Homo sapiens: one gene and its partners. The protein of the gene in region 3 interacts with the protein of the main gene of each other region in a biochemical or structural test. Each region holds a gene or a part of one and is shown on either strand. Other genes may lie near its edges.

Region 1 (4,306 bases), on a different chromosome or scaffold from region 3:
GAGGGGAGGAGCTGGGCGTGCCCGGGTGCTCTGAGGAGCCTGTCCCTGTTCCCGCCAGAGGGGACGCAGCCGGGCTGGCCTCAGGTCTGCGCTTCCGGCTGTTAACTACTCTTCTTAGTTCAGATCTGGAACTCAGCATCAGGGGAGTGTGATCAGGGCCCCCCTGAGGGTGGCCCCAGCTGCAACTCCAGGGTAAGGAGTGTGGGCTCTGGGGTCAGACAGCCTGGGTTCGAATCCCAGCCTCACTGTTCCATAGCCCTGTGACCTTGGGCAAGTGACCAAGTTACTTAGTTTTTCTGTCCCTCAGTTTCCGCCACGGTAAAATGAGAATGACAGAAGTGCCTAGACTGAACTAACGTGTGTAGTCTTTTAGTGCCTGGGCACATGGCAAGCGTGTGATGAGTCACTGTGCCCGTCTTATCGTCAGCCGTCATCTCGGTGCTTTTCACAACCACCCTGTTATGATCGCCCTCCATTTTAAAGAAGGAGACTGGGGAGCTTCACCCACGGTCACCCTCCCACGTGCGAGGCGGAGTCCCGACCCACGTCCGTCTGACGGAAGGCGGAGCTTTCACGCGAGGCACGCACGGAGGCACACACAGTTACCCATCCTGCCCTGCCCTCTGGCCGCCCACTCACTGGGCAAGCAAAGGGCTCAGAGGCGACACACAGTGATCCCAGGGCTTTATTTACAAGAGGAGAAGGGTTGGCCCTGCCTGGGGCCTGGCTGGGCTATATACAGGGTCAGGGAGAGGTGGGGGGGATGCAGCCATTTAAATTACAAAAGAATGGGGCACTCCTAGGTTCAGGTTGTGAGTCTGTCCATCGCGAAATGCTTCCACAGGGTCAGGGCTGAGGCTGCCAAGAGAAGGGAGTGAGGGAGTGAGAGGGTAGCTGGAACCTGGAGGTGGAACAAGAGGGTCTGGGGCAGCTGGGAAGCACAGAATGAGGCTGCGGCCACCCCATCCACCCAGGGAAGGCAGTGGAGCCAAGGACACAGGGCAGGGCAGGGAGGACACCCAGGCAGAAGAGCTGTACCATGGCCACCTGAGGACAGCACCGCTCACTTCCTCTTGAGGGAACCCTTGCTCTTCTCCTTGTCTGCTGACCGCTGCTTCTTCACTTTCTCCTCCCTCTTGTTCTTAGTGTGCAGGTTCTCATACACATCCTCCTTGTGTCTGCAGCCGGGTGCAGGGGGGCAAGTACAGGCAGTTGGTGCAGGTCAGGAGACAGCACAGGGGGACCCGGCACTGGCAGTCCCCTCTGGCCACCCCGTCTCACAGGTGACGCAGCCACGGTCCCTGCACTAGACTCCAAGCTCCTAGAGGACAGAGGCTACATCTCATACACGAGTGCGCTGCTGGTACCTAGCAGAGGCCCACACGTGTGGGCACTCAGGAAATGCTTATGAACAGAAGGGGTGAGAACCAAGCCTGAACTTGAAGCCAGGTCCCCCCAGCTGCAACACTTGTCCTCTCCAGAAAGTGAGGATCGGGCTGGGCAGGACAAAGGGGTGGATGCCGGGCAGTGGCAGTCAGGGCCACTCACTTGGACGAGGTGCGGGAGGCCTTGGCATGGGCATTCTTCATGGCTGGGGGATAGGTGATGTTCCCGTACTCCGACTCCTGGCCCTTCTGCGACTGTGGGCAGAGGGACAGTGGGAAGGTGGTGGTCCCAGCAGGGCCAGGTGGCACCCATCCTGCACTGCAGCCCCCCCCCCCCCCAGGCCCTGCTCTGCACGCACCTGCAGGACCTCCAGCTTCTTCTTAGTGGTTTCAATGAACTGGGCGATGGCCACGTAGATGAACTTGTACTGCGCCTCCGTCTGCACCATGCCCGAGCGCTGCGCCCGCACCATCTGGATGGTCTTCTGGATGTCAATGTCACAGTCCAGGCCTGGGTGGGGGGCAGTCAAACCTCAGGTCCAGGCATAGGCGGACACCGAGGGGCTGCTCACCCCCCACCCCCAAACCCCCAGGTGCCCCTCACCCTTGGTGGAGATGTTCTCCATGAGCATGTCGATGACAATGATGGTGCCTGTGCGGCCGATGCCGGCGCTGGGGAAAGACGGGGGTGCCATCAGAGGCCAGTCAAGCCCTCCCCGGGAAGGGGGGTACCCAGCGCTCAGCTCCAGCCCCAGGCACCACAGGAGCAGCCTGAGCCTCCAGTGATGGGAGGGAATGTGCCCAGGGTCACCGGGCAAGTGATGATGGAGGTTTGCCCAGCTCTGCATGGACACGCTCCACCTCGGGCTCTGCGGTGCTGACGCTGGCTCCCCAGCTGCCACCATCCTTCCCTCCTCCACTCCTCGCGCCGACTCCTCACTCCTAGTGAGTGGCTGCCCCCACCCCGGAAGACCTGGGACCCCCAAATCCCACCACTGTCCTGCCGGCTCCCAGGTACCCTGAGCCCTCCCCGCCTCTCCCTGAAGGAGTTATGGAGCGTCTCTCAGCATGGCTTCACTTCCCTTTTCCTTCAAACCCTGACGTCAGGGAAAGGATAGCCCTGAGACAGCAGGGTGCGGGGGCACAGGGTCAGGGGACTCAGGGGAGCAGTGCAGTAGGAAGTTTCTCTCCTTTCCCAGCCCTGGGCAAACAGACCTCAGGGAGACCCCAGGCCCACCCTCAGCTGAGCCCAGCAAGCTGATGCCCTGAGTCGCGCTGTCTAATTTCAAACCCAGATTGTCAAAAATAACCCCCCACACCCACTTCCTTCCTGTAACGTCTAAATAAAGGCCATGGGGCTTTCAAGAAGTGTGTGAATGTGTGTGTGGCGGGTGAGCAGGAGGGTAGCTCTCGGGGATGGGCCTGTCCCTGAGAGAGCACAGGACAGAGCCGCGTCCCCGGACAGCCCATCGGGGGCACCTCTAGATTCAGCCGACTTGCCCTGTCCCAGGACAAACAGCTGCTGGGGGAAGAGGAGGAAGCCAGAGGCCGTCGCAGGCCTGGGGTCCACGGAGGGAGTGGGAAGGGACCGGGGCAAGGCAGGTTCCCATTCCCCTATTCTCTGCCTGATGTGAGTTACTAAACTAGTAACAGCGCCCAGTTTTTGAGGGCTGACGGAATTCCAGCCACAACGATAGGGTCTCATTGAGTTCTCACGACAACCCTGAGATCCTGATTTTACAGATGAGGAAGCTGAGGGTTAGAAAAGTTAAGTAATTTGTCCAAGACCACACAGCTGGTAAGCGGAGGGGCCCTGCACCCACTGCCTCTCATCCACCCAGGCCAGGCCAGCTCAGTGGGCTCACCTGTGGAACCCCTGCTCCTCCTTGCAGCCCCCACCTCTGCACCTTACCAGAGGTCTCCTGATCACAAACATGCGGGTAGATAGACAGAGGAGTTATGTGCAGCCCCAAAGAAGCATCACCCATCCCCACACAGCCCTGGGGGCCAGGATGGGGCACTGCCTGGGGAAGCTGGGAGAGAGGGCAGAGTCAGGAAGAAGCCGAAGCCCTGCGGCTACCGATGGAAAAAGAGGAGGAATGGGGAGCACATGCCTCATAGATGTTCCTGGGAGAAGAAACCAACAGAATGGGACCTCGAGAGAAAGCGGAGCAGCCGGGACACAGGCCTACTGTGGGTGCCTGCCCGGCCTTGCCCTGACTAGCTTGGGCCTGGCCAGCAACTGGGTCCCGGGCTCCTCCTCTGTATTTGGCAGGGTTGGGCGAGATGGTACATCCGGAGAGGGCTCTGAGGAAGATACCCACAGGCAGAGGGCCAAAGTGGGGCTGGTTCCAGCCACGATCCACCCAGGGTTCTGGAGCCATGAGGGGACCCAGGAGAAGCCGGGGGTGAGCGGAGGGCACTCAATGTGCGAGCTAACGTTTATATTGCTTATAACAGCTCATGGCACTTAGCAGTATTTACTTCTCAGCTGTCACTACTACCATCAGGATTATCATCCTCACCTGCAGTGCACGATGATGGGCCCTGCGTGAGGCAGACTTTCCTGCCGCTGGTTGATCTGGTCCAGGAAGCTGAGGACACCCCCAGGCTCACTGGGGACCCCATGGTCGGGCCAGCTCAGGTACTGGTAATGCCAGATCTCCCGAATCAGGTCTCCCTAAGCCGAGGACATAGGGTCAGTGCCCCCTCCTCTCTCGGAACACCTCATCCATCTCACCCTACCCGACCAGAGAGGAGAACAAGTCCAGGGAGGGACTCCCGGAATGGGGCAGGGCGTGGGGGCCACTCACATTGTCCAGCGGGGAGACCTGTAAGGTACGGAGTTTGTATTCGGTTGTGTCATGCTCCCCGCAGTTGGTCACAGAGTAGGGCCCATAAGCACGCTGCATGCCCACCTC
Region 2 (4,306 bases), on a different chromosome or scaffold from region 3:
AATAGTGGGTGACTGAGGGAGGGGGTGGCTTGTAGTACTCAAACAAGTATGAGTTGAATAAAGACAAATAGAGATCACGGGTAGCTTGGGAGACCGAAGTTGACTGAAGCTCTTAAATGCCAAATGAGGAGATTGTAAATACTGTGATTGATAAATGAGAATCCTCCTAGGTTTGTAGGGCATGACTTGCTGAAAGTAATTTTTAAAAGACCAGTTGGTTGATTTATTTGACATGGATTGAAGCAGGGAAAAATTAGAGACTTGGAGGACAGTAAGAAAGATACTCTGAGAGTTTAGGTATGAGGCAATGAGAACACTGATTAAGGTGGAGAGGAGAGAAAGGAGGTGAATGGTAAGGCATTCTGTGACAGAAGAATGAGAGAAGCCTCAACAACCCTGGGAGATTAAGCAGATCATTTCAAATCATAATATAACTAATAGAGTAGTGAACATTTATGGAGCAGTGGGTAGATTGATTATTTTGTTACCATTGTTGTTTATTGGGGTTGTGATTGATTATTGATGGAGGGTTGTAAAGGGTGAAAAAAAAACTTTCAAATTGAAGTCTCAGAATGACATCAGTGATGCCAATGACTGAAGCAGAGTAAATTAGGAAATGGACTCATTTTAAGTTTGTTTTTGACATATTAAATTTAATGTAATTATTTGTAAATAATGCTAATATGTAGGTAGACAGTCATATAAAACTAGCACTCAGGCGAGATGTCTGATCTGAAGGTATAGAGAGCTAGCCCAAGAACTGTATTACAGACAATTAGGATCTCAGTATTACAAACAGACAATTAGGATCTCAGGGAAGTTCAAATAATAAACACTGGAAGGGTTACAGAGAGAGCAGGCTTGGGCAGTCCTGGCAAATGGGTAACTAAAACCTCTAAAGCAGATAAATGTATGGGACATGCAGCTCTCGCCCTCACCCACAGTGACATGGCACATAATGGAAATATTTTCATGTTTCTACTCAAAGTTCATGGGCATATTCTCATTTATCAAGATTAGGTGTGTGCCAGGCCCTCATGGGAAAACGAGTGAGTCTCCAAACCTGGGCTCTCTGCACTTGCCTTACCATCACCTACACATCCTCTAGCCTCTGCCTCAGCTTTCCTTTCCTCTTGTACCTCCTGCAACCTCCCCATACCCACACACCTGTACAATTTTAAATGTGAAAAGAGTTGCTGTGTGATCTCCAGTTTCCCTAGGGAGTGCCTCCTCTGGCGTTTTAGATTTTTAATGGGGGCACCATCTGTCTTTTCATGGCAATAATCACTGACTCCAGAAAAAGTGCTGACCCCACGACCCAAATGAACCTCACAAGATTGCCGATATCCGTGATGTCCGATACAAGCTAATGACATCTCTTATGAAGTCAAAATACGTGAAAGAACTTACTTATTAAGTTTTATAGAATCCTAACTTTGAAAGACGGAAGACTCAGAAGTTATCAAGGTCAATTCCTTAATGGTGAAACCAAACCCCAGGTTTTTCAAAGGCCACACAGATGAGTTAAAGCAGAGTGAGATCTAGAGCCCAAATCTCCTGTGTGCCATTCTTATCTGTCTTCACCACAGGTTTCCATCCTGGTTGTTGTTCTGTTCCTCAGAATTCTTTTGAGATGTGAACCAATTTTGAAAAATGAAATGCTAAGCTATTAATTTACAGTAAAAATATCATACCAAATGAACCAAAGTTGTGAGCTCTGTATTCCCATCTGTAGGAAAAAGCACATAAAAAATTTTAAATCAAACCTTGCTTGGTAATAATGGATTCATAGGAGAGAACTGAGAGAAAGATGATCTTAATGGCTAGTTGACACAGGGCTGGTGGATTTAGGGGCAAAGTTTACAGGAAAAAAGCCACTTCATATTCTACCTTCTTATCCATATCATGTGACTGCTCCTCTCCCTGCCCCAACTTATTTGCTAATCCATTCATCCATTTATTTAACAAATATGTATTATGAATCAATTATGCAGCAGGAACTGTTCTAGGCACTGGGCATCCATGAACAAAATGAATCAGTTCTAAGCATCAGTAAACAAAAGAGACCAGGTCTGAATCATTGTGAAATATTTTAGTGAGCGGAGATAGGTTCAATTGAATAAATGAAAAAATATACTATTTCAGATGGCATTAAGTGCTATGGAGAGCAATAAAGTGGGGTAAGTGAAAAAGGCAGTAGCTTGGGTGGGAATGGAAGGCATATTACTCTTGGGTAAAAAGTGGGATTGTTATAGCTACTCTTTACTTTGTTTTCTTGCATATTTTCTCTTTATGATAGGGACTATATTTTTCATCTGCGCTAAGCTAGAGTTGACTTTGGGTTAAATATTCTTTTTAAAAAATGGTTCTTCATTTGGTCTTATGATGTAGAATAAATTATATAGCTGAAAACACTTTATGAATCCTGACCACCTGTTTTGAGTAACTTTAATTGAAGCTCAGACTTTGGACCACCTGAAGGTCTCTCAGGGAAGGGGGCCTAGCAAACCATTCTTTGAAAGATATTGAGCCAGAAATAGGACAGTGAGATCCCAGTCTGGGCAAAGTAGTGAGGTGGGCAAAGCCCATTAAATGGTGTCAAATGTGACTTCATTCTCCCCATAAGACTGAGTCTCCTTTCTTTAGAGGCCTTTCCAAGTCCATTCATCCATCAGCAGACATTCATTTAAAGGTCTCCCAGGTGCCCAACATAGTGGGGAATGTGGAAAATCTACAACGTGACAGTGTTCTCCTCTTTAAAATGAGAGAATTGGCTTGAAAGCCCCCTCGCAGCACCAGTATTTAATGAATGTAGGGTTCCTTTCTCACACGGGAGGTGTTGAAAATGTTAGTTTCCTTTCCAATTCTCAACTTGGCTCAAAGACTTAATAAAGCAGAGGCAAAGAAACCAACCTTGACGAGCTTTGGCAGGTAACTGCAGTGGCCCTCACCACAACCCCCTGAGGAAGGCCGTGTTCTCCAGGTGAGGACACTGAGAGCCCAGGTGTCTGTGATCCACAGGATACTTCACAACTAGTAAGTAGCAGACTGAGGATTCCTAACCAGGTGTGTCTCACTCCAATGTTCCTCCACTTCCCAACCTCTCACTTGCCTCCAAGCAAGACAGGCAGCCTCTGAAGTATGGGAATGGAGTAGCGTAGATGAGAGGCCACACTGTGCAGGATAGCCTCATCATAGGACCAGCCCATGGAACTTGCCTTGTGATATGCATTTGCATGATTTCAGTCTCTTCACTTCAGCCCAGCCCAGCCAACTGTTTCCCAGATCGCATTAGTTTCCTAGGGCTTCTGTAACAAGTCCCACAAACTGCGTGGCTTACTACTATAGAAATCGATTCTCTCACAGTTCTTGAGGCTGGACGTCTGAAATCAAGATATCAGCCAAGTCACGCTGTCTCTAAAAGCTCTAGGGGAGGAATCTTAGAGCTCTTCCTTGTCTCTTCTAGCTTTTGGCAGTTGCCTGCAATTCTTGGTGCTCCTTGGCTTGTAGATGCATCACTCCAATCTCTGCCTCTGTCTTCACATGCATTCTCTCTGTGTGTCCATGGCCAAATTTCCCTCTTTTTTATAAGAACATCAGTCATTGGATTAGGGCTCACTCTCATCTAATATAATCTCATCTTTATTTGATGACATTTGCAAAGACCCTATTTCCAAAGAAGGTCACACTCACAGGTTCTGAGGGTTAAGACTTGGGCATATCTTTTTTGGTGGACATAATTCAACCCAAAACAGTCCCCAAGAGCATTTATTGCAATGTGTTTGCTCACATGGGCCTTCTTGGGTATCAAGCTCATCAGCTTTGTGTGCAAATAGAAATTTGTGTTGAAAGATTTTCTTTACTTCCTTTATAAATCCCACAGTATACTCTTACCATCCGTCTTCTCCTGTCTAAGGTATCTTATCACTGACCCAGTAAACTAGTATTGTCAATCATCTGTTGTCTAGACTAGATGTAGTCCACAGTACCACAATGTTACATCTACCTCAAGTAGCTTTTCCATAGGAGAATACAGGTCTAGGAGTTTGGAGACGTGCATTGAAGTAACGGCTCTGACACTAAGCTGTGTGATCTTGGGTGGGTCACTTCACCTCTGTGGGCCTCATTTTCTCATATTTAAAAGAAGTTTCAGCCAGGCACAGTGGCTCATGCCTGTAACCCCAGCACTTAGGGAGGCTGAGGCACGCATATCACTTGAGGTCAGGAGTTCGAGACCAGCCAGGCCAACATGGTGAAACCTCATCTCTACTAGAAATACACAAATTAGCCGGGCATGTTTGCATGC
Region 3 (3,599 bases):
TCCAAAAAAGAATTGCAGGTGGTTATCAAAGCTGAATAGCCTTTACCTTTATGATAATAAGACTCCTCATTTGGGAGAAAAAAATTTACAGCAGCTACAAAATATTTACGATTAGGAACCAAATAAGATGAATAAAGCAAATAAGTTAATTTACTGGCAAAAATAACTTCTTGGTTATATGTACAGCTTTTATGTAAAGATTAAATCGAAGTTCTACCAAGTGTATGTGGACATATGTGAGTTTCAAGATTCATCACAGGGCTAACTCGTCTCAAATTCCTATAGGGAAGGACACAGAGAATTGATCTTCATGGGAAACCATAATTTTAATAGCTTAAATATTCTCTATGCGGTAGTTTGATAGTTCACTTAAACAGTGTCCAAATTGCTAGAATCTCTTATGAAAAAATCAGGCATTCGAGGGCAAAGATGAAGTCAGTGTTTCACAAAGTGGGGTGTAGGATCTCAGAGATCCACTATGGCTTAAGAAAGGAACAGGACAGCATCGGGGGACTACTTTGAACCAGGGTGGTAGAAAGGGAAGAGAGCAGTGCCAGTTGTGTCAATGGGCAAAAAAGGGAAGGATTCTATTTTCCTCTAAAGGTCAGAGAGAAATACATTTTTCTTTGATTCCTAACAAGGTAATCACTTACTTGCAAAGCTGACTGTCAAAGAGTATTTTCCAGAGGAAGCATGTGAATACCCCCCGTGAAATTGGGGCTTAGAGTCATTTTAGCTTGTGACTATAGAAGCATTTACTTCTGCCCAAAATGTCACCTGGCCAGGAATTAGGTGAGGCAGGGGCCTGCAAAAGTGACAGATCCTACATTTTTGGACCTCTACAAAATCAGTGAGACTTGAACCGAGTATCTGAAATTTCTATTATTTTAGAGAGACTTTTAATGAAAAGAAAAAAGCAGCTCACACTGCTAAAAGATATTTGCCCACACAAACACAAGGGCCCCTGGCCCGACACAATGCCCACAACAGCTTCTTGTTTCCAACTGCAGAGAGAACTCAGATCTCTGGGATCAGAAAAATTTTATTAATTCTACCCAGAAGTATAAAAACTGGCCCCATTGTAATATCAGTAATAATGAGGTCTCCACTGATAATGATCTTTTAAAATTATGCCTGATCTCATCTGTATAATATTTGTTCTTAAGCAAATAGCAACCAGGCGATACCAATCTGCATTTATATGTTTACATGGGGCAAGGCTGTCCTTCAAACTGATACACACCGAAGTCCATGTACACAAACAGAGGCACAGTAAGATCCTCTGCCCACAGTATATACAGTAGAAGTTAATTTATCTGTTTCTTTTTTTTTTTTTAACAACTAGAAGCTGATGTTGTAGGATCAGCTCTAGGATCCTCTGCCCACAGTATACAGTAGAAGTTAATTTATCTGGTTTTTTTAACAACTAGAAGCTGATGCACATGGATTTCTCATTTGCCCTATAACAATCATCATTCTAATAACTAAAGTCCAAAAGAATGGCAATGCAATAGTTTGAAACGCTTGGTTTAGCATTTATTTATCAGAAAAATTGTGATTCTTTGTTGTCATTTTTGGAGGCAAGAGGGCATAGTGAGAAAAGAAAGGACATATCACCAATTAACTGTATTTTGTTTGTTTGCTAGCTAAATGACACCACTCCTTTTTTTTTTTGTCTCTGCATAAGGTAATAGAACATTTACATTTTCTTTACTTCATCTTGAAGACCCTTACTTAGTCATATGTAACATGTTTGCCTATTAAATTCTGCAAGGTGGTGTTTATTTAAAAAAATAAATAAATACAATTTTCTTTACATTTAAAAAGTGATAAAGGAATAAGAGAATGAGAAAAAATTGTTCATTGTAATGCTTTAAAGCAAGTTTTCCCAAGTGGAACCATATATGCCTACTTTCAGCTAAACCCAACAAACAACAATTTTAAATGGCAAACTTATCTTTTTACTATGCAAAATCCATCCTACATTTTTATATCCTGCATTTAACTTTGTTACATTATACTTGTGGTTAGTTTTCTAGTTTGATTTATTTAATAATATTAAAATCATTTAACATCTGATAACCTAACTAAATCTACATCTTATAGCATTATCGTGGTTCTGTCCAGTTATATACATGCTTTCATGATCACCTTTTCTATTACCTTATGAACTACATATACTAGTTAAATTATCAACAATTACAGATGGATGAATAATTCCAGTTTTGAAATAAAGGTTAGAGAGCTCTAGAAAAACTTGTATTTACATCCTTCCCTGTCAGGCTTAAACAATTTTAATTTTCTTTTCATTTTTGATACTTCAAGAAGCACATTAATAGTCCTTCCAACTTCATCTAGTAGCAGAGCCTCACACAGTCCTTTTCTTGATTTTTCCTTAGCATTGTAAGTATGCACAATCTTCATGCCATGTCTTTCCTTTAGAAGGTATTAGCTCACACACTATAACACTTAAACACTATTCCTTCTCTTAAATTAGATATTCAGTCCTTCTCCCTAATCTACAAAAAAGAATCACTTGATTTTAGTTTGTGTGTTTTAATAGAAATTTGAGTTTTGCGTTGTTTTTCATGCTATTTTAAGAATGTTACTGGAGAAAGGATTCTCATCCTAAGCTGTGCTACTAATACTATGCAGAAAACCAGGAGCTGCTTGGTAGTCTAACACCTTTTGTGGTGCAGATGCTTTGTGGTTCTGGATCTATCCTAGATCAGAGGCCATCTTTCCTCACCTGTTTACCACTTTCTTTAGGCAATCATTTAACTGCAAAATTTTTCCATACCTGCCCAAAATAGGTATAATCTACAAAGTTGGGTGATTTAAAAAATATACTCCGTGTAATTTTAATACTAATTTGTCTCAGATTTACATAATTGATTCTGCAAATTTCAATTGCTACAATTGGCCTCTGGAATCTGATATCCCCCCAAGCACTTTGAAGACTTTAACTGACATTTTAAAATTCTACCCTACTGGACTAAATAAGTTATTCTCTGGAAGGAATGAAACTTTTTTTCTCCCTCTTATACATGCTGAAATATGTTTTCCCAGGGGGGACAAAAATAAAACAAAAAACACTCAAACAACTGAAGTCAATTATATACTACAGAAATCATTCAAAAGAATTATAAAGTGGTGCTATTATAAAGCATTTGGGTCATTTTGGATTATTCCTACATGCATCTCTAGGTATTACCCAACATGTAGAAGTCTTGTGTTCTTAGGAGGAAAGAGACATTCACTAAATACATTTCTGTTACCTTAACAGTTAAAAGTTTGTTTTAACTATTCATTTTTTCCTTCTCCAAAATGAGTGATTCTGCTTTCTATAGCCCAGTAGAAACCATATGCATATTGTAAATCAGAAAAAAAAAATCAAGGTATAGTATCCAAAAAGAGGGCTGTGATGACTCGATGCAGATTTATTTAGAAAGGGAGGCTTATATTCAATTTTTCATAAGTACTGATATGAGATCCCTTTTCCTAGAGACTTCTCTGAATGGATAGGAGAGCCCTGAGCTATTAGATTGTGGCCCCTGAATCACTCTGTGTCTTTACCCCTGAAAAGTTTGAGGGTGAAC
Region 4 (4,306 bases), on a different chromosome or scaffold from region 3:
AGTTTTCTTGCTGGGGTGTTTGGCTCCAGCACTATAGCCCTTACCACAATCATTCCACCTGGTTCTTCAATAGGACTCTGAGGTATCAAAAAAGTCACTAGGGCAGCCCAGAGATTGGTACGATTTACCTTTACACCTCAAAGTTTTTTAGATGTGAGCAGCGCTGGATTATGGCAATTTACCTTATAATAACTCACCATAGTTGGCTGTTATAAGAATAAATATTGTTCTTCTAAGATTTTTAATTAGTTGCTTCAGTTATTACATTTTTTTCTATTTTTTTTTTAAATAGAGATGAGGTTTTGCTATGTTGCCCAGGCTGGTCTCCTGGACTCAAGCAATCTCCCACTTCAGGCTACCAAAGTGCTGGGATTTACAGGCATGAGCCACCTCTCCCAGTCTCAGTTATTATTTTAATAAATGAGACTGAACGTCCTCTTATAAGGCTCACTCCCTTGTTCCTACTACATTTGCTCTGTTTAAGTATCTCTTTAAATTCTTCAGTTAAGATCATCCCTTTTATCAGAAACCTAGACACCACAAAGTAGCTTTCTCACCTTTAATTCTCCATAGGGATCACTATTATACTATAATATTTGCATACGTATGTGTATATATGTATTTGCTTTTTTAAAAAAGTAAAAATGCTCTTCTCACTCTTTGTCGATATAGGCACCCAGGTACGTAGTTAGAAATTAAATAAAGGCCACAATAATTTCCCAAGGAAGATCATTAAAAAGAAAAATCCTTTCTTCCTCTAATATCACATAGCTGGCCTTTATGGCATGCCAGCTAAGAAAAAAGGTATTGCCTATGGTGACAGGAAGACTCAATCTTTCTCTCTTTGGGTTGTAGCTGAATTTCTATCAAAAGTCCTAGTAAAATATATAACTCCTCATTTGTTCTAAGCCAAGTCTTTTCTTCAGTTTTCCTTCAAACAATACCTTTACTTTCCCATTAGAATATGAAGAATTGGAGACTGTGAACAGCAAGGTTTGGGGTGGGTATCAGTCACTTCAAATCTGGCTATGCAGAGAGAGGGAAAGACATGGCAGAATAGCAGGGGTGGAGGGTGAGTGAAATGTATCTTCATTGGGAGTATTGAAAGAGAGCAAGTTTTTCAAAGTTGTTGCCGGTATCTCATGAAAGCCCAGGCTGCTACCATGGTGAGGGCAAACACTGGCACCAGCACCATAAATATGGGAATACCACTTGGGTCCCCTTCACCTCGATGTCCTATAGGTCCATTCTGCACCTGTAACTGGAAGGGAAAGAAAAATGTTAACTCTAGTGACTAATGTGTGTTTGCAACTGAAACGCCCAGGTTGATACATCACCTGGGTTTGTAGACTCTAGACCACCCAAAACTGTAACCCCCAGCAATACCTAGCAGAAGGAGTCCTCTCTTTGTCCTGAGCTGATGCATCAGTGTCACAGGATCTTTGGAAAGAAAATAGGTCTAATGGGGAGGCATTTAACCTTGCTGACCTAAAGGGACCCGTGAGGGCAAGTCAGGTAATTTCTGTTTCTGTACTGCCTCTACCTTGCTATTTGTGTATCGTATCAGGAAAATGAAGACATGAGATAAAACCTATGATCTTATAGGGAACTTGGATATTACTTGGTGAGGAAGAAGGGGGATCTTTCTGGAAATGTTTACTTAGATAATCAGTCATCAAAATGTAGTAAGAGCAGATGTGGGCAATGTCAACATAGGTGCAATACCAACATACGTCCAATGCCATTACTTGAAAAATGCTTTCCAGATCCCAGAAGGCACCCAACTCCCTCCAAAGATGGGGTTTTGCCCTTCATCTGCTCATTTCTAATACTAGAGAGAGATGAAGGTGAATCTATATGGAACAGATGTAAAAAAGCAAAAAGAAATTATATCCTAGTGCTTATAATTTTCTATTGGCTAAGTGTTTCCTTTTGAGGCTGGATGGTCTTCATTTTAGTGATGGTTTTCAGGGTAGCTCTTCTTAATATCAACTTTTAGTGGCTAACTTGCAATAATTATGGCATCATCGTATTTCAGTTAAACTGCCTCATTACAACTCATAAAACTGACACTTCAATCTGAAAGGCAAGACTGCATGAAATACCATTATACCCTCTATTCCACCTCTATGTTTTTCATTCATTTGCTGATGAGCTGTCCTGAAAGGACATGCTCAATAAGAAGGCATGGTTTTTAGGGCTAGGCCAATTGCCTGAACATAAGGGTCTTTTTTATTAGGAATTATTTATGGATGTTTCCTTAAAAGTGAACACTGGAAATAACTTCTCACATACCTTCCAAAAGAATTGTAATCATATTGAAGTGTGTCCCTATATTTACTTGTTTTTATCTACTGCACAAATGCTCCCATGCTTTAGAAAGAGAAGAGCCAAGGCAGAAGCAACTGATGACCAATATTATCTCTTATTAACCTGTTTTCTAATCCATTACACCCAGATTCTGCTTGCAACTGGTTGTTTTCTCAGGTATCTTTCACGTTCTGCCTTCTCTACTTTTTTAGGAACTCCTCTAAATGTTCTTAAGCTTCTAAATCCTTAGCCACTGAGTGAGGAAGAGTGCACCTATTTAAGAAGTAGCAAATTGATTTAATTTAAAGGCACATGGAACCTGTTTTGTGAATATGCTCAGAAATTCTCAATGCTATAGGAGGAATTATATCTACCCAGGCTTCCCTTTACATCATCATCCAAATTATAAAACACTTGGAAATAAGAAACAGATGCAGGGATAGGTGCTGCCTTGACTGAATTCTGAATTCCATTTCCTTTTTCCTGGAGTTCTCCTATGAACACTAAAGATTTGGTTAAGAGGGTCACCAAGTTGATAAATGAAGGGTTCATGGCAGTGACAGGGAAAAGCATATAGTGGGTACCAGAAAACCCACCATCTTTGTAGTGTTTTATCCAATGGTTTTATAAATAAGTTTTCAGCGGTAGACATATGGTTCCTTCCCTACCAAAAAGTAAAATTGGCTACGTTTTTTTACCATCTTTTTAATTAATTAATTTATTTATTTTCCATTGGTCCATGTCACTCTTAAAATTTTTTATTTATTTTTATTATTATTTTTTTAAGAGATGAGGTCTCTCTATGTTGCCCAGGCTGGTCTTGAACTCCCGGGCTCAAGCAATCATACCACCTTGGCCTCCCAAAGTGCTAAGAGTACAGATGTGAGTCACCACACCTGGCTTTTCTTTAATCATCTGTTTTAATTTGGTTGTCAAGCTTTATCTTTAAGGCATATTATCTTGAAGCAAGGACCTTGGTTATAAGCCATACTGTTGTGAATTTCTCTTTTTTTTCTCTTTTTTTCTTTTTTTTTTTTTTGAGACAGGGTCTCACTCTCTTGCCCAGGCTGGAGTATAGTGGTATGATCTTGGCTCACTGCAACCTCTACCTCCTGGGCTCAAGCAATCCTCCCACCTTAGCATCCCAAGTAGCTGAGACTACAGGTGTGCACCACCGTGCCTGAATTTTTTGTATTTTTAGTAGAGATGAGGTTTTGCTATGTTGGCCAGGCTGGTCTCGAACTCCTGGCCTGAAGTGATCCGCCCACCTTGGCCTCCCAAAGTGTTGGGATTACAGGTGTGAGCCACCGTGCCTGGCCTGAATGTCCTTCAATGATAAGCAGAAGTACCAATGGACCCCTCCCTTTGCCTGAGAAACTCTTCAGGGGAGTGAGGGTAAAACAAAAAGCAACACTGAAGATTACACACATTGGGCTTATTCAGAAGTACAGTGCAAAAGCCTGGTGCCAGGTTTCTGGCTCAAAGTGATACCTACCCTGTGCTGCACTCTCAGAGACACAGCATAGCCTGCATTACGAAAGAGGTCTACAGCATCCTGGTGCAGCAGGTTCTTTAGGTCTTGGCCATTTACCTGTCAAAACACCAAAGAGTAGTAAGAAAGGAAGAAGGCTATTAGAAGTCAACAATTTATTTTCAAATGGCCAAACTTTAAATAACAAACTCCTTCAGAGCAAATTGCAAGGACTAGGAGTATGGGCAAAGTTACTTAGAGCTCAGAACTTAGAACTTTTTTCATTTTCAAAACTATGTTTTCCTAGAACTGAAGTTCCACAGGCCATCTGAAGAGAACCTATGTAAAATAAAAAGTGGTCTCTCCTTCCTCTTAGCTTCTATGCCTGTCTCGTTTTGACACTTGGGAATCTGTTACCGTATTAGCATTTCTTCCATGAGTGTTAACCTGCTTCCTTAAAGATAGCATGGTCTTCCAGGTTACCACCCTAACCTTTATATTCCTAAGCCCTGGCATTGCCAGCTG
Region 5 (4,306 bases), on a different chromosome or scaffold from region 3:
CTCTAATGCTAATTAAAAATATTTTAAAAACTATGCAAGATTATGAATAGTACAAATCTAGGTTGTAAATACTATTGTTCACAACACAAACTGGTGACTGTAAGTTCTTTCATATACATCCATTTTTCTATCATGAAAACTATTTTATAAAGGAGAAAACAGGCATATGGAAGTTAAGATACTTGTTCAGTGTCACACTAGCCAACTTAGACTGGAACTCAGATCTTTGGGGTCTGAATGCAGAATTTTTTCTGCTTGTATAGAGTTGTGGATGTGTGTGAGTTCTTAAGTTAAAATTGGACTGATAACATCTTTATCTTCTACATACAAAGATATAGTTGGGTTTTTTTCATCCTGTTCATTGTAGATGGCTTTTAAGAACATTTGGGCAGTTCAAATTTGTTGCTCTCATTAAAATTTGTGTAATTTGTTATGATTTCTTTATTGATGGCATTTTATCATGGTTGGAATAAATGACGAGGGCTTGATTTTTCTTGAGTTTGACCTAGAAAAAAAATTAATTACTTAAAACCTAGTAAAAAATACATATTCTTTGTGTTGTGTTTATACTTAGAACATTTTAGAACTTGGAAAAGCACCCATAACTGCACTGACCTCTTAAAAATTAGGTTTTAAAATTCACTATTATTTTTGGAATGTTTTATTCATTCAGTACTAGTTGCCCTTACATGTCTAGTGTGGACCAGGGGAAATTCATTAGATGGACTGCTCATCAATACAATTACAAACATTTATAAAATTTATATTAAAATTATATAATATTAAAAGTATCCATTTGAAAACCTGTGTTCTCCAGTGTCGAATATTAAATGTTGAAATTTTCCTTTGGTACTTAGATATTCGGCTGCAATTAAGCGCTGACTGGGAAATTTAAAGGGACTCAGTTGTGTTTTTTCTTTTTTAATTTTTCATCTTAATATTCCCTAATAGGCCAGTACTGATGCAGGCACTGCAGGAGCCCTGACTCCACAGCATGTTCGAGCTCATTCCTCTCCAGCTTCTCTGCAGTTGGGAGCTGTTTCTCCTGGGACACTGACCCCCACTGGAGTAGTCTCTGGCCCAGCAGCTACACCCACAGCTCAGCATCTTCGACAGTCTTCTTTTGAGATACCTGATGATGTACCTCTGCCAGCAGGTTGGGAGATGGCAAAGACATCTTCTGGTCAGAGATACTTCTTAAAGTAAGTGAAAATAATGGTGGGAGACAGTTATCTAAGACAAATATGTATTGGAAAACACAGTAAAGTGGTGTCAAGATACAGAATATCATTTATTTTTATGTTTTATTTAATATTTATGTTAAGCTCTGTAGCTCTATCTTCCATATATATGTTTCAGTTTGGTATGACCTAAATACCTTTGTTAGTATGGGTAATATTTTGAAAGCTTTACTGAGTCTTGGTTCTGAGCCTCTTTATAATCTTTTCTTTTGTGGAAGTTTGGTTATTCTCATTTTGAGCTTGTGCCAAACCTTTTAATTAGCCTAGCACAAAACAGAAAGAATACCATGAAAATTTTCAAATTCTGGGAATTACAGGGCTAGCAGCGTCTTACAAAATACGTATGGTGCTACTTGTATCTTTTTAAATAAATATTTTATTGGTAGAGAACTACAAAATAAGTAGGGCTTTTGGGGGAGTCTAATTTTACAGTATTTTAAATTGTGAAATGACAAGCACTACAACTGAAGCTTGATGTGACTTACCAATATTTCCCCCCAAAAATGTAAAGGGAAATAAAAATTTTTAGGTTTCATATGCAGTCGCTCAGTGGCAAACTTCTTTCAAGCTAGTAGGTCTTCACAACAGAAACCCTCCTCTCTGGGAAAACAAAAACATGACCGTTGGGTTGTTTATTTATTTTTATTTTTTCAGTCCTTTTGTGTTTAATAAAATGGCAGAATTACACTAGGCTGAAAAGACATAAATAGAATTTTCTCTCCTCTGATTTTGAAATTACAGATAAGACCTCAATTTTTTTCTGGCTTGTTTGGATCAAGTATATATTGAAATGTTGACTAAAACTAATTATGATAGACTGAAATTGATGTCTTTAAAAAAGCTCACTTAATAGTGTTTAATCAGGTTGAGATAATAAAGTGAAAAACAGTGTAAGTTTTGATTCGGATAGGTCTTGACAGTCTACTCCTAAGGCAAATGTAACATTTATTTATCATACCAGATAACACCATTAAGGATGTTTTGTTGTGTGAATCCTAGTATGTGTTTTATATTGATTGTCTTCCAGGGTGGGTTGCTACTTTGTAATGTAAGATAGAAAGTTTTGTGACAGACTTACAGAAGAGCAAAGGAAAAGGTTTGATCATGAAAAGTTCGTACAGTTTTTTTTTGCCCCCTTTCCTGCAACTTTTTCTTTTCTTTTCTTCTTTTTTTTTAAAAAAATTCATTTTCTGGTGTCCTGGTATCCATTTCAAAGGATCAGGTTTCAACCAGAACAGTAAAGGGCCTGAGACTGGAAAGTACACACAAGTCTGGCAAACTCATCTGCATGAGCAAGATCATTTGTTCTCAAGCAGACATCCAAAGTAAATGATTGAAAGAGCTGCTAGCTGTGAAGGATGTGTCTTGAAGGGGAAGGGAGTGGAAACAAACCAGGTTGTTAGGAAGAAAAAGAAAGGCTGCACTTTTTTGAACCTCTCCCTGCTGGGTCACATGCTGACCTGGGGAGATTGTTAAACAGCTTAATAGCCTGCTTTCCTTCTTTCTTTGGTTGATGCTGTGGCTAAAAGTATAAGGTTAAAGAGCAACATTTATGCTCTTCTTCTTAGTTCTTTGTATCTTGTAATAATTGCTTGTAGGTGATACCTGCCTACGATTTCATTATTTTGAATGAATGATCTTTTTTTGAGCTGAAATCAGTATTCTAGATACAGTTGGCCTTCCGTATCTGTGGGTTCAGCATTCATGGATTCAACCAACCTCTGATTGAAAATATTTGGAAACAAATTACATCTGTATTGACTAATGTACAAACTTTTTTCCTTGTCATTATTTCCTAAATAATGTAACAACTATTTAGCCTTTACGTTGTATTAAGTATTATAAGTAATCTAGAGGTGATATAAAGTATATGGGAGAATATGTATAGGTTATATGCAAATATTATGCCACCTTATATGAAAGACCAGAGCCTCTGTGGATTTTAGTACATGTAGGAGGTCCTGGAACCAATCCTTGACCACAGATGCTAAGGAATGACTATTCATTTTTCAAAGTTTCCAGTGATTCTTCCTTTGTGAAGAAATGTTTCTCTTAAAGGTATTGATATATGTAGATGGATTAATGAAGGGTATATACCTTCCAACCCCAGTCACCTCAATTCACCCCTGTCAACTATGGGCCTGTAAGGAAGATAAACCAGGCTAAAATAAATAAATCTCAAATTATGTCATAGGAGAAAAGGTTGCAAGGGTAGAGAGATATTTACCCGGAAAAGAAAAAACTGGGAGGAGGAGAGATAAGACATGATTGTTGTTTCAGTGTTTCTGGGGAACTTTTATGTGGGAGTAGGATTAGTCTTACTATATAAGAAATGTGAGGAATTTTGATTCCATGGAAGAATTTTCTTATATAAAACTTTTAAGAACTAGAAGAGTTTTCCTGGACAGGTAAATCTTGCTCAATAAATGTAGGTAAAATCATGGTTACTTGGTATCTGTCAGGGATTCTATGGAGGCCCCTAAACATTGGATGTGGGAGAAGAATGCTGTGGGCTTATAAAATTTTGTATTTTAAAGAGTATCTGCTTTATGAACATTATGCAATTTGGAGAAAAGTTATGAAATAAGATTATTTCACCTTCTCCAGTTAGCTACTTCCATGATGTTATGGACCGTATAGTTGTTACAACTTCTTTTTGTGTACTGAACAGACAAATGAGATTAATATCCTAACCATTAGTCAAAGATGATGATAAACTAAGCTTTTGGTGCCAAGTTTCTGTTGTCAAAGTTCATTTTTATCCTAGTTTTGATGTTTTAAAATAGGGCTGTCTTTGTAATCAATATTTATATACTTTCCTCTTGTATCTAAAGAGGAGTGTTGTTGTCATCAGATGTAGAATGAAGATTTAAATTAGTTGCCTTACACTTGTTTCCGCAATGAAACATTTTATTTTAATGCATCTTTTTAGATATTTGTTGGAACTGACTTTTAAGTTACAAAGTCTATAACTTATTGAGATTTATATTTGGCATGAAGAACCTGACTATAAATGGTCCAGACAGGCAAGACGATGTAATTTGAGAAAAAACTTAGAAATGTTA
Region 6 (4,306 bases), on a different chromosome or scaffold from region 3:
CTCCAGCTGTGGTCATCTTTCCCGCTGTTTATTTCTGCAGCCCCCAGGGCCTCATGGCTCTCAGACTTCCCATAGAACAGAATGGAGGGCTTTGCTGGGAACCGTTCACTGCATGTCTCAGGATGCCAGGAGGCCACCATAAATGAGGGCTCTCAGGAGTGGGAGGCAGGCAGAGGAGGGTAGCAGGTGCTGTTTTCCCATACCCCTTCGGGTGGGGACCAGCTGAGGCTGGCCTCTCTATGTTATCTGGTACCCTGGGTCAGGGTGAGACAGAAGGACCTGTCTAGTGATGCTGGGGTTTGGTCCAAGGCTTTCAGAAACCCCTCCTCTCTTTGCGGCCCAGGATATACCCCCTACAGAACTACATTTTGGGGAGAAATGGTTCCACAAGAAGGTGGAGAAGAGGACGAGTGCCGAGAAGTTGCTGCAGGAATACTGCATGGAGACGGGGGGCAAGGATGGCACCTTCCTGGTTCGGGAGAGCGAGACCTTCCCCAATGACTACACCCTGTCCTTCTGGTAATGCCCCCGACCCAGGGAACGCCTACCTTCTTCTCCATGCCAACCGATGAGGCAGGGTGGCGAGTGGTTCTAGCTCAGGCAGGAATTGGGCAGGCTGGGACCTGAATCCCAGGCTTCATTTGTCTAGCTCTTCTAGGCCGGGACAAGGGTGAGGTGGGTATGACTCACTTCGGCACTGTAACCCAGATTAATGAGATTTCAGGGCAATCTTTTAAAAAATCAAAAGTAATGCAAAAAAGTCTGTGATGAACAAAATATGAACATTTTAAACAAAGACAAGATCTGACCCTACTCTTAGATGATGTGGTCTCACTCACTTTCCCCGATCCCAGCCCTGGAGTGGGTCATGTGGCTCTGGATGATTCAGCCAACCTTCTAGCATCTCTGTCTCCTCCATAAAACGAGGACTCTAGGGCTGTCCTTTTGAAGCCGTCATAGGCTGTGATGAGCTTGTGCATTCATTCATCCACCCACTTATCCATGTCTCAGTGCATTAAAAGATACTTCTTGAGGGCGTGCCCTGTGCTAGACACAGTACTTATGCCAGACAGACAATGTCTTTGTCCTCCTGGACACTAGCGTCTTTTGAAGGAGATGGGCAATGAAAAAGCAGTCACTCAAATGATTTGCAAGTATAGTTGTGATGAGTGCAATGAAACAAGGCAACATAAAGGGACATCCCTCCCTTTATTGGGGGGGTTTAATGTGAGTTGGGGGGATTTGTGAAAGTCTGTGAGGAAGGCTCTGATGCCCTGACGTGGGGAATGGTTAGGAAAACCTTCCTGAAAGAAGATGAGACCTGAAAGAGGGAAATTATAATTCTGTCACTTAAAAAAAAATTGTGATAGGGTCTTGCTCTGTTGCCTAGGCTGTAGTACAATGGAGCAGTCTCAGTCACTGCAGCCTCAAACTCCTGGGCTCAAGCAACCCTCCTATCTCAGCCATTTAAGTAGCTGGGACTACAGGCACATGCCACGACACCTGAATAACTTTTAAATTTTTTGTAGAGCTGGAGTCTCACTACGTTGCCCAGGCTGGTTTTGAACTCAGCTCAAGCAATCCTCTGGCTTCGGCCTCCTGAAGTGCTAGGATTACAGCTGTAAGCCATTGCACCTGGCTGAAAATTAGAATACTAATAACACGCAAATAATCCTGGACACCTAAATGATGCTTACCATGTGCTGGGCAGTATTCGAGACACCTTGTGTGTGTGGTCTCGTTTACTCTTCAGGATGCCTCTTTGAGGTGGATACTGTTATCATTCCTGTCAGACCGCTGGGGTAGTAATACAGTGTGGCTCAGACAGCACGGGTGACCTGCTCCAGGACACTTGGTTCATATGTGGCAGAGCTGGGATTTGAATCCAGGCATCCTGGCTCTAGAGAAGCAGTTATATATATAAAAGGGGGATGGGGTGGGGTGGGGTGGGGGAAGTAGGTAGAATGTTCTGGAATCCAGGCTGAGGGTCTAGCCTATACTAAGGCCCTGCATCTGGTTTTGTTGTTGTTGTTGTTGAGATGGAGTCTCGCTCTGTCGCCCAGGCTGGAGTGCAGTGGCGTGATCTCGGCTCACTGCAACCTTCGTCTCCCAGGTACAAGTGATTCTCTTGCCTCAGCCTCCCAAGTAGCTGGGATTACAGGCATGCACCACCATGCCCAGCTAATTTTTGTATTTTTAGTAGAGACGAGATTTCACTGTATTGGCCAGGCTGGTCTGGAACTCCTAATCTCAGGTGATCCACCCGTCTCGGCCTCCCAAAGTGCTGGGATTACAGGCATGAGCCACTGCGCCCAGCCTCCTGTGTCTGTTCTAGGAGCAGAGGGAAGGTTGTGTGGCCACATGTAATGTCCCCGCCTCTGAGGCCCTGGCTGCCGCAATGGCCTGGCCTGCGTTCTCCCAGCACTGATGGCGTCCTCTCCCCGCAGGCGGTCAGGCCGGGTCCAGCACTGCCGGATCCGCTCCACCATGGAGGGCGGGACCCTGAAATACTACTTGACTGACAACCTCACCTTCAGCAGCATCTATGCCCTCATCCAGCACTACCGCGAGACGCACCTGCGCTGCGCCGAGTTCGAGCTGCGGCTCACGGACCCTGTGCCCAACCCCAACCCCCACGAGTCCAAGCCGTACGTGTCTGAGGGTGGAGCAGGAGGCAGGCGGTGGTCGGGTTAGCTCCACCAGGCAGAGAAGCTGGCCTGGTGGTTCAGCCGGGCCAGTCCCCCAGGACACCCTCTCCCCAGCCCACCGGCATCTCAAAATTGCCGAGGTGGCCAGTTTCCAAATTCCTGGCACCATGACCTGTGTCCTTTTCTCTTTTCTTTCTTTCCTCCCCTTTTCTCTTTTCCCTTTCTTCTACTTTGTCTTCATAGCCCCGAGACTTTGGGCTTTGATTTTCAGAGGGTCATTTTGGCCTGGGGATATTCTCTTACCTTTCAGAGCTCCTTCCTGTTTGTTCTGAAAATGAACAAGGAAACAATGATTATAAGAGTCTCCCGCTGATTTTTTTTATCTAGTGAAATGAGTATCAAGGTAGGTCTTGCGAAGGGTCAACAAATTCTGGGAATAAAGAAAAAACAATTTTTAGGCAGAAAGCTGCAAAAATGTCCATTTCCGAGGAGGCCGTATTACTTATAGCAACTTTTTTTTTCACTTTTTCTGTCACATTTTCCTATGGATTGCCTCTTAAAACTTGCTATTTCTTATCTTAAGAAATAACCCGAAAACAACCCAAAACCTTGTGAAACTCCTGCTGTGATCTCCGTCTTCGATTTTCTGAGACACGTGGCAATAACTGTGCCTCCCTGGGAGCCTGGCTTTTCAGGTTTGGGCTGCTTGGGTGGATGAAGATGAATCAATTTTTTGAGACAAGGTGTTGCTCTGTTGCCCAGGCTGGAGTGCAGTGGAACAATCACGTCTCGCAGCAGCCTCGAGCTCCTGGGCTCAAGTGATCCTCCCACCTCAGCCTCCTATCTGGGACTGCAGGTGTGTGCCACTGTGCCCAGCTAATTAATTAATTAATTAATTAATTAATTTTGAGACCGGGTCTCGCTCTGTCTCCCAGGCTGGAGTGCAATGGCACGATCTCAGCTCACTGCAACCTCTGCCTCCCAGGTTCAAGAGATTCTTGTGCCTCAGCCTCCTGAGTAGCTGGTATTATAGGCGCACGCCACTGGGCCTGGCTAATTTTTGTATTTCCTTTTTTTTTTTTTTTTTTTTTTTTTGGGACAGAGTCACATTCTGTTGCCTAGGCTAGAGTGCAGTGGCATGATCTCGGCTCACTGCAACCTTTGCCTCCTGGGTTCAAGTGATTCTCCTGCCTCAGCCTCCTGAGTAGCTGGGACTACAGGCGCCTGCCACCATGCCTGGCTAATTTTTTGTATTTTTAGTAGAGACAGGGTTTCACCGTGTTAGCCAGGATGATCTCGATCTCCTGACCTCATGATCCACCCGCCTCAACCTCCCAAAGTGCTGGGATTACAGGCGTGAGCCACCACGCCTGGCCCAATTTTTGTATTTTTAGTAGAGACAGAGTTTCGCCATGTTGGTCAGGCTGGTCTTGAACTCCTGGCTTCTCGCGATCCACCTGCCTTGGCCTCCCAAAGTGCTGGGATTACAGGCGTGAGCCACTGTGCCCAGGCTATTTTATTTTTTATAGAGATGGGGGTCTCATTGTGTTGGCCAGGCTGGTCTCAAACTCCTGACCCCAAGTGATCCTCCTGCCTCAGCCTCCCAAAGTGCTGGGATTTCAGGTGTGAACCACTGTGCTCGGCCCAATGTATTATTT
Region 7 (4,306 bases), on a different chromosome or scaffold from region 3:
CACCCGGCTAATTTTTGTATTTTTTTATAGAGACAGGGTTTTGCCATGTTGGCCAGGCTGGTCTCAAACTCCCGGGCTCAAGCGATCTTCCTGCCTCGGCCTCCCAAAGTGCTGGGATTACAGGCATGAGCTATTGCGTCCCGCCTTCAAATTACTTTAACCTAGTATTAATTCATTCAACAGGAAGTTAATGAGCCAGGCAGGATAAAGCAGTAAGATAGGAAAATATTGCTATTTTCATGGCTGAGAGAGAGCAGACAAACACATGACTAAATAGGGCAATTTCAGGTAGTAATAAATTCTAGGAGGGAAAAAATCCCACAGAAATGTGAGGATGGGAGAATGCAGTTAGTTTTGATAGGTGGTTTAGAGAAGGTGATCGTGTGAGCTGACACCTGAATGACAATTAGTAGTCTGAATTTTGTTTTGCTTAATTATCAAAATAACTCCTCTTGGGTTCGGCTTTTATATGCATCCAGTAATTAAAATGTAAGTATATTCAATGTACTGATATCTCTCAGCATCATAGGTAGGAAAACTAAGGCATTCAGCAATTAAGTGACTCCTCCCTTGATCATGTAGCAGTGATAGTACTGGATTTAGATTTTGAGGTTGCTTCTCTGCCCTTTTCTGCCTTTGTGAAACCAACAAAGCTGCCTGTATTTTCCAACTCTTCCTTCAGCATGTGGTACCTCCTTTACATCTGTTTTTGTTGCTCTGAAATCCATACGCGACGATGAGCTGAGAGGGGCAGAAAATTGAGCTTGTTCTGAGACTGGAGGCTTTTGGTTTATCTCTTGCAGGTCAAGTACATTTTGTCCTGGGCTCTCCCTGGTGGCCACGTTTGTTTATCTCCTGCGGGAGTAAATAAACTTGCCTTGCTGAAAAATAACAGTTCTGTGTCTTTGCAGTGGAAACTGGGATGTCTTTATTAACGTTAGGTCCTGATGTAAGGCCAAGTTTTTGGTTAGAGTTGCTCAAGTGCAGAGGCCACTGCTAAGATGACTTACCCCTCGTGTCCATGGTCAATGTGGAGACTGTTATGAGTGGCACATGATGCTGGAAAAGCAGAGCCAACTCATGTTTGTAATTGTCCTAGCAGGCCGTGGTGTACTTTGTTAGGCAGCCACAGAACAATAGAGAAACTCAGCTTATTCCCCTTCCCTCTGGGAAACACAGACAGTACTTGCCATCCAACGCCAATGTTTTTAAGGAAGAAAGAGGCAAAAAGTGATGTTGGCAAGGTCTCTGGGAGTTGTGGACCCCAACCAAGGATTGGAGACCCTGAAATGGATTCAGATGCCCTAAAATGCAGCCCAGTTCATTACTATGAATTTTGGAGGACTTTGTGCCTTGAGCAAATGTGTATATGTGACGCTCTTTGACAACACTGAAATAGGAAAAATACTATCCATGTTCGCGAGGAGCACTGAATTTAGAGAGGGAGACAGACTTTTATGCCAGCATCAAATGAATTTGATAAAGCTAGTACCAAAATGAAATTTGAAATTTTTTTTTTTTGAAATAGAGTCTTACTCAGTCACCCAGGCTGGAGTGCAGTGATACAATATTGGCTCACTGCAACCTCCACCTCTTGGGTTCAAACAATTCTTGTGCCTCAGTCTCCTGAGTAGCTGGGATTACAGGTGCGTGCCACCATGTCTGGCTAATTTTTATATTTTTAGTAGGGATGGGGTTTCACCATGTTGGCCAGGCCGGTCTTGAACTCCTGGCCTCAAGTGATCTGCCCACCTTGGCCTTCCAAAGTGCTGGGATTATAGGCATGAGCTACCACACAAGCCTGAAATTTGAAATGTATTGGTATAGAATATACTGTTTAGAATGTATGTGTATATATGTATATTTGTATACTCATATAAACACAAATACACATTGTATGTGTTTCTGTAATATGTATATCTGTCTACACATACATGTATATACACACATACAATGTCTTTTTTTTTTTTTTTTTTTTTTGAGACAGGGTCTTACCCTGTTGCCCAGGCTGGAGACTGCAGTGGCATAATCTTGGCTCACTGCAGCCTCGACCTCCTGGGCTCAAGTGATCCTCCCATCTCAGCCTCCTGAGTAGCTGGGACTGACTACAGGCACGTGGCATCAAACTTGTCCAATTTTTCTATTTTTTTGTAGAGTTAGGGTCTTGCTCTGTTGCCCAGGCTGGTCTCAAATTCCTGGGCTCAAGCTGTCTGCCTGCCTCGGCCTTCCAAAGTACTAGGATTACAGATGTGAACCACTGTACCTGGCCTTTACAATGTCTATTTTAAAGATAATGGTTCAAGTTTTTATCATCCCACTGGCCTACTCTAATGAAACATCTATCCATTCATTGAAGAATTATTTATGGTGGGATAACTCTGTGCCAGGTACCGTGCTAGGCATTGAGTATTCCAGGTTTTAGGAAACAGCACATGCAAAAGTGCTGAAGTGGGAGAAGATCTCGGAGTGATTGAAGGCTAGGAGAGAGCAAGTGTGGGAGCTGTGAGGCTGGGAAGGTGGGAGGTAGGTGGGAGCAGACCACATAGGGATTCTTAATGTCTTTAGTGTCATGTGGACCATGGAGAGGAGTGTAGATTGTATTTTTAGAGCAATGCAAAATCATAGAAGGATGTGATCGGGGGAGTGGCATGAGCTGATCTATTTAAAAATATTTCTCTGGCTGCTGTGAAGGAAGGATTGTAGGAGGCAGGAGTAGATTCAGGGAGATGAGACAAGTGATGAGAGAGGCTTTGAACTTGGGTAAAAGTAGTTTGTGGAAAGTCTTTTTTGGAGGTAGTTTTTGTTTATTGCCTTGTCATCAAAGCAGAGATGCTGACCAATGAAACTCCATGAGAAAATAGTGATTTATAAAGACATATCTATGCACTGCCATTAAAAAGCTGCTTGGAAAAAAAGGATAAAAAGCTGCTTTAACAACTTTTTTTTTTGAGATGGGGTCTTACTCTGTCACCCAGGCTCACGACCTCAGCTCACTGCAACCTCTGCCTCCCAGGCTCAAGCATTCTCCCACCTCAGCCTCCCGAGTGGCTGGGACTGCAGGCACACGCCACCATGTCAGGCTAATTGTGTGTGTGTGTGTGTGTGTGTATGTGTGTGTGTGTGTGTGTGTGTGTGTGCTGGGACTGCAGGCACACACCACCATGTCAGGCTAATTGTGTGTGTGTGTGTGTGTGTGTGTGTGTGTGTGTGTGTGTGTGTGTGTGTGTATGTAGAGATGGGGTTTTGCCATGTTGCCCAGGCTGGTCTCAAAATGTTGCCCAGGCTGGTCTCAAACTCCTGAGCTCAGGTGATCCACCCGCCTCGGCCTCCAAAGTGCTGGAGATTACAGACGTGAGCCACTGTGCCCACCTAACAACTTTAAAAAAATTTTGACATTTAGTAGGATATTTATTGCATTATTGTTGAGATGGCAAAATATTGGAGACAACTGAAATGTTCATCAGTGGGGGGGGCTAGTTAAATGAAATACAGTGTAGCATGCATTAGAACACTTTTCAAGAATTTAACTTTTTTTGTAGCCTTTTACTTATAATGCTTGTCCCTATTGATGCCTTTTTTTTCAGCATGACTTACTCTTTTACTATAGGATATTAAAATTTAATTAGATTAGAAATGAGGAATATTCTTGTAATCTGTAGAAAGTAACAAACTATAAACTTATTCCCCAAGAACAAATATAATAATTTTTCTGGAGTAGCAGGTAAGAAAGATATAAATTTATATGTATACAAGAAACTGAAATTAGACTTTATACATTTAAAGGTTACAAGTGCAGTTTTATTACATGAATGTATTATCCAGCATTGAAGTCTGGGCTTTTAGTGTAACCAGCACCTGAATAACATACATTGTACCCATTAAGTAATTTCTCATCCCTCAAACCCCTCCCACCCTGAAATTAGACTTTGGATCCCTAGTTTAAATTCCACCCCTCTCTTTTTTTGAGACAAGGTCTCACTCTGTCACCCAGGCTGGAGGGCAATGTTGCAATGATAGCTTACTGTAGCCTCAACCTCCTGGGCTCAAGGGATACACCCTCCTCAGCCTCCTGAGTAGCTGGAACTGCAGGCGTGCACCACCACATTCAGCTAATTTTTTGATTTTTTTATAGAGATGAGGTCGGAACTCCTGGGCTCAAGCGATTCTCCCCAAGTGCTGGGGTTACACACATGGGCCACTGCCCCCAGCCTAAACCTCCTTTCTCAGTATAGCAGCCTTGAGATGAAGTTCCTGAAATTACTGGCCAGCTTGACTGTTTCCCCACATCACTGGAGGAGGGGGATGC

The links.
Region 1: the proteins of ERBB4 (region 3) and PTPN6 form a complex in vitro, tested with the Homo sapiens proteins (2 studies listed by BioGRID, with this or other methods).
Region 2: the proteins of ERBB4 (region 3) and SHC4 form a complex in vitro, tested with the Homo sapiens proteins (one large-scale study listed by BioGRID).
Region 4: the proteins of ERBB4 (region 3) and SYNJ2BP interact in a test that uses a peptide from one of them, tested with the Homo sapiens proteins (one large-scale study listed by IntAct).
Region 5: the proteins of ERBB4 (region 3) and YAP1 form a complex in vitro, tested with the Homo sapiens proteins (2 studies listed by BioGRID and IntAct, with this or other methods).
Region 6: the proteins of ERBB4 (region 3) and PLCG2 form a complex in vitro, tested with the Homo sapiens proteins (one large-scale study listed by BioGRID).
Region 7: the proteins of ERBB4 (region 3) and PTPN11 form a complex in vitro, tested with the Homo sapiens proteins (2 studies listed by BioGRID, with this or other methods).

The regions. Positions count from the first base shown.
Region 1 is NC_000012.12:6,957,678-6,961,983, reverse strand, and holds the end of PTPN6 (tyrosine-protein phosphatase non-receptor type 6), read right to left. Parts: coding exon 4,199-4,306; intron 4,066-4,198; coding exon 3,911-4,065; intron 2,058-3,910; coding exon 1,990-2,057; intron 1,897-1,989; coding exon 1,745-1,896; intron 1,641-1,744; coding exon 1,549-1,640; intron 1,322-1,548; coding exon of another isoform or gene 1,179-1,321; coding exon 1,064-1,178; 3' UTR 1,039-1,063; intron 859-1,038; 3' UTR 668-858; downstream 1-667. UniProt on the Homo sapiens protein: Tyrosine phosphatase enzyme that plays important roles in controlling immune signaling pathways and fundamental physiological processes such as hematopoiesis.
Region 2 is NC_000015.10:48,957,123-48,961,428, reverse strand, and holds part of SHC4 (SHC-transforming protein 4), read left to right. Parts: intron 1-4,306. UniProt on the Homo sapiens protein: Activates both Ras-dependent and Ras-independent migratory pathways in melanomas. Contributes to the early phases of agrin-induced tyrosine phosphorylation of CHRNB1.
Region 3 is NC_000002.12:211,377,565-211,381,163, forward strand, and holds part of ERBB4 (receptor tyrosine-protein kinase erbB-4 isoform JM-a/CYT-1 precursor), read right to left. Parts: 3' UTR 1-3,599. UniProt on the Homo sapiens protein: Tyrosine-protein kinase that plays an essential role as cell surface receptor for neuregulins and EGF family members and regulates development of the heart, the central nervous system and the mammary gland, gene transcription, cell proliferation, differentiation, migration and apoptosis.
Region 4 is NC_000014.9:70,371,871-70,376,176, forward strand, and holds part of SYNJ2BP (synaptojanin-2-binding protein), read right to left. Parts: intron 3,902-4,306; coding exon 3,806-3,901; intron 1,262-3,805; coding exon 1,121-1,261; 3' UTR 1-1,120. Other genes in the region: SYNJ2BP-COX16 protein, read right to left, coding at 1,163-1,261, 3,806-3,901. UniProt on the Homo sapiens protein: Regulates endocytosis of activin type 2 receptor kinases through the Ral/RALBP1-dependent pathway and may be involved in suppression of activin-induced signal transduction.
Region 5 is NC_000011.10:102,113,193-102,117,498, forward strand, and holds part of YAP1 (transcriptional coactivator YAP1), read left to right. Parts: intron 1-951; coding exon 952-1,202; intron 1,203-4,306. UniProt on the Homo sapiens protein: Transcriptional regulator with dual roles as a coactivator and corepressor. Critical downstream regulatory target in the Hippo signaling pathway, crucial for organ size control and tumor suppression by restricting proliferation and promoting apoptosis.
Region 6 is NC_000016.10:81,908,073-81,912,378, forward strand, and holds part of PLCG2 (1-phosphatidylinositol 4,5-bisphosphate phosphodiesterase gamma-2), read left to right. Parts: intron 1-343; coding exon 344-519; intron 520-2,447; coding exon 2,448-2,648; intron 2,649-4,306. UniProt on the Homo sapiens protein: The production of the second messenger molecules diacylglycerol (DAG) and inositol 1,4,5-trisphosphate (IP3) is mediated by activated phosphatidylinositol-specific phospholipase C enzymes. It is a crucial enzyme in transmembrane signaling.
Region 7 is NC_000012.12:112,421,783-112,426,088, forward strand, and holds part of PTPN11 (tyrosine-protein phosphatase non-receptor type 11), read left to right. Parts: intron 1-4,306. UniProt on the Homo sapiens protein: Acts downstream of various receptor and cytoplasmic protein tyrosine kinases to participate in the signal transduction from the cell surface to the nucleus. Positively regulates MAPK signal transduction pathway. Dephosphorylates GAB1, ARHGAP35 and EGFR.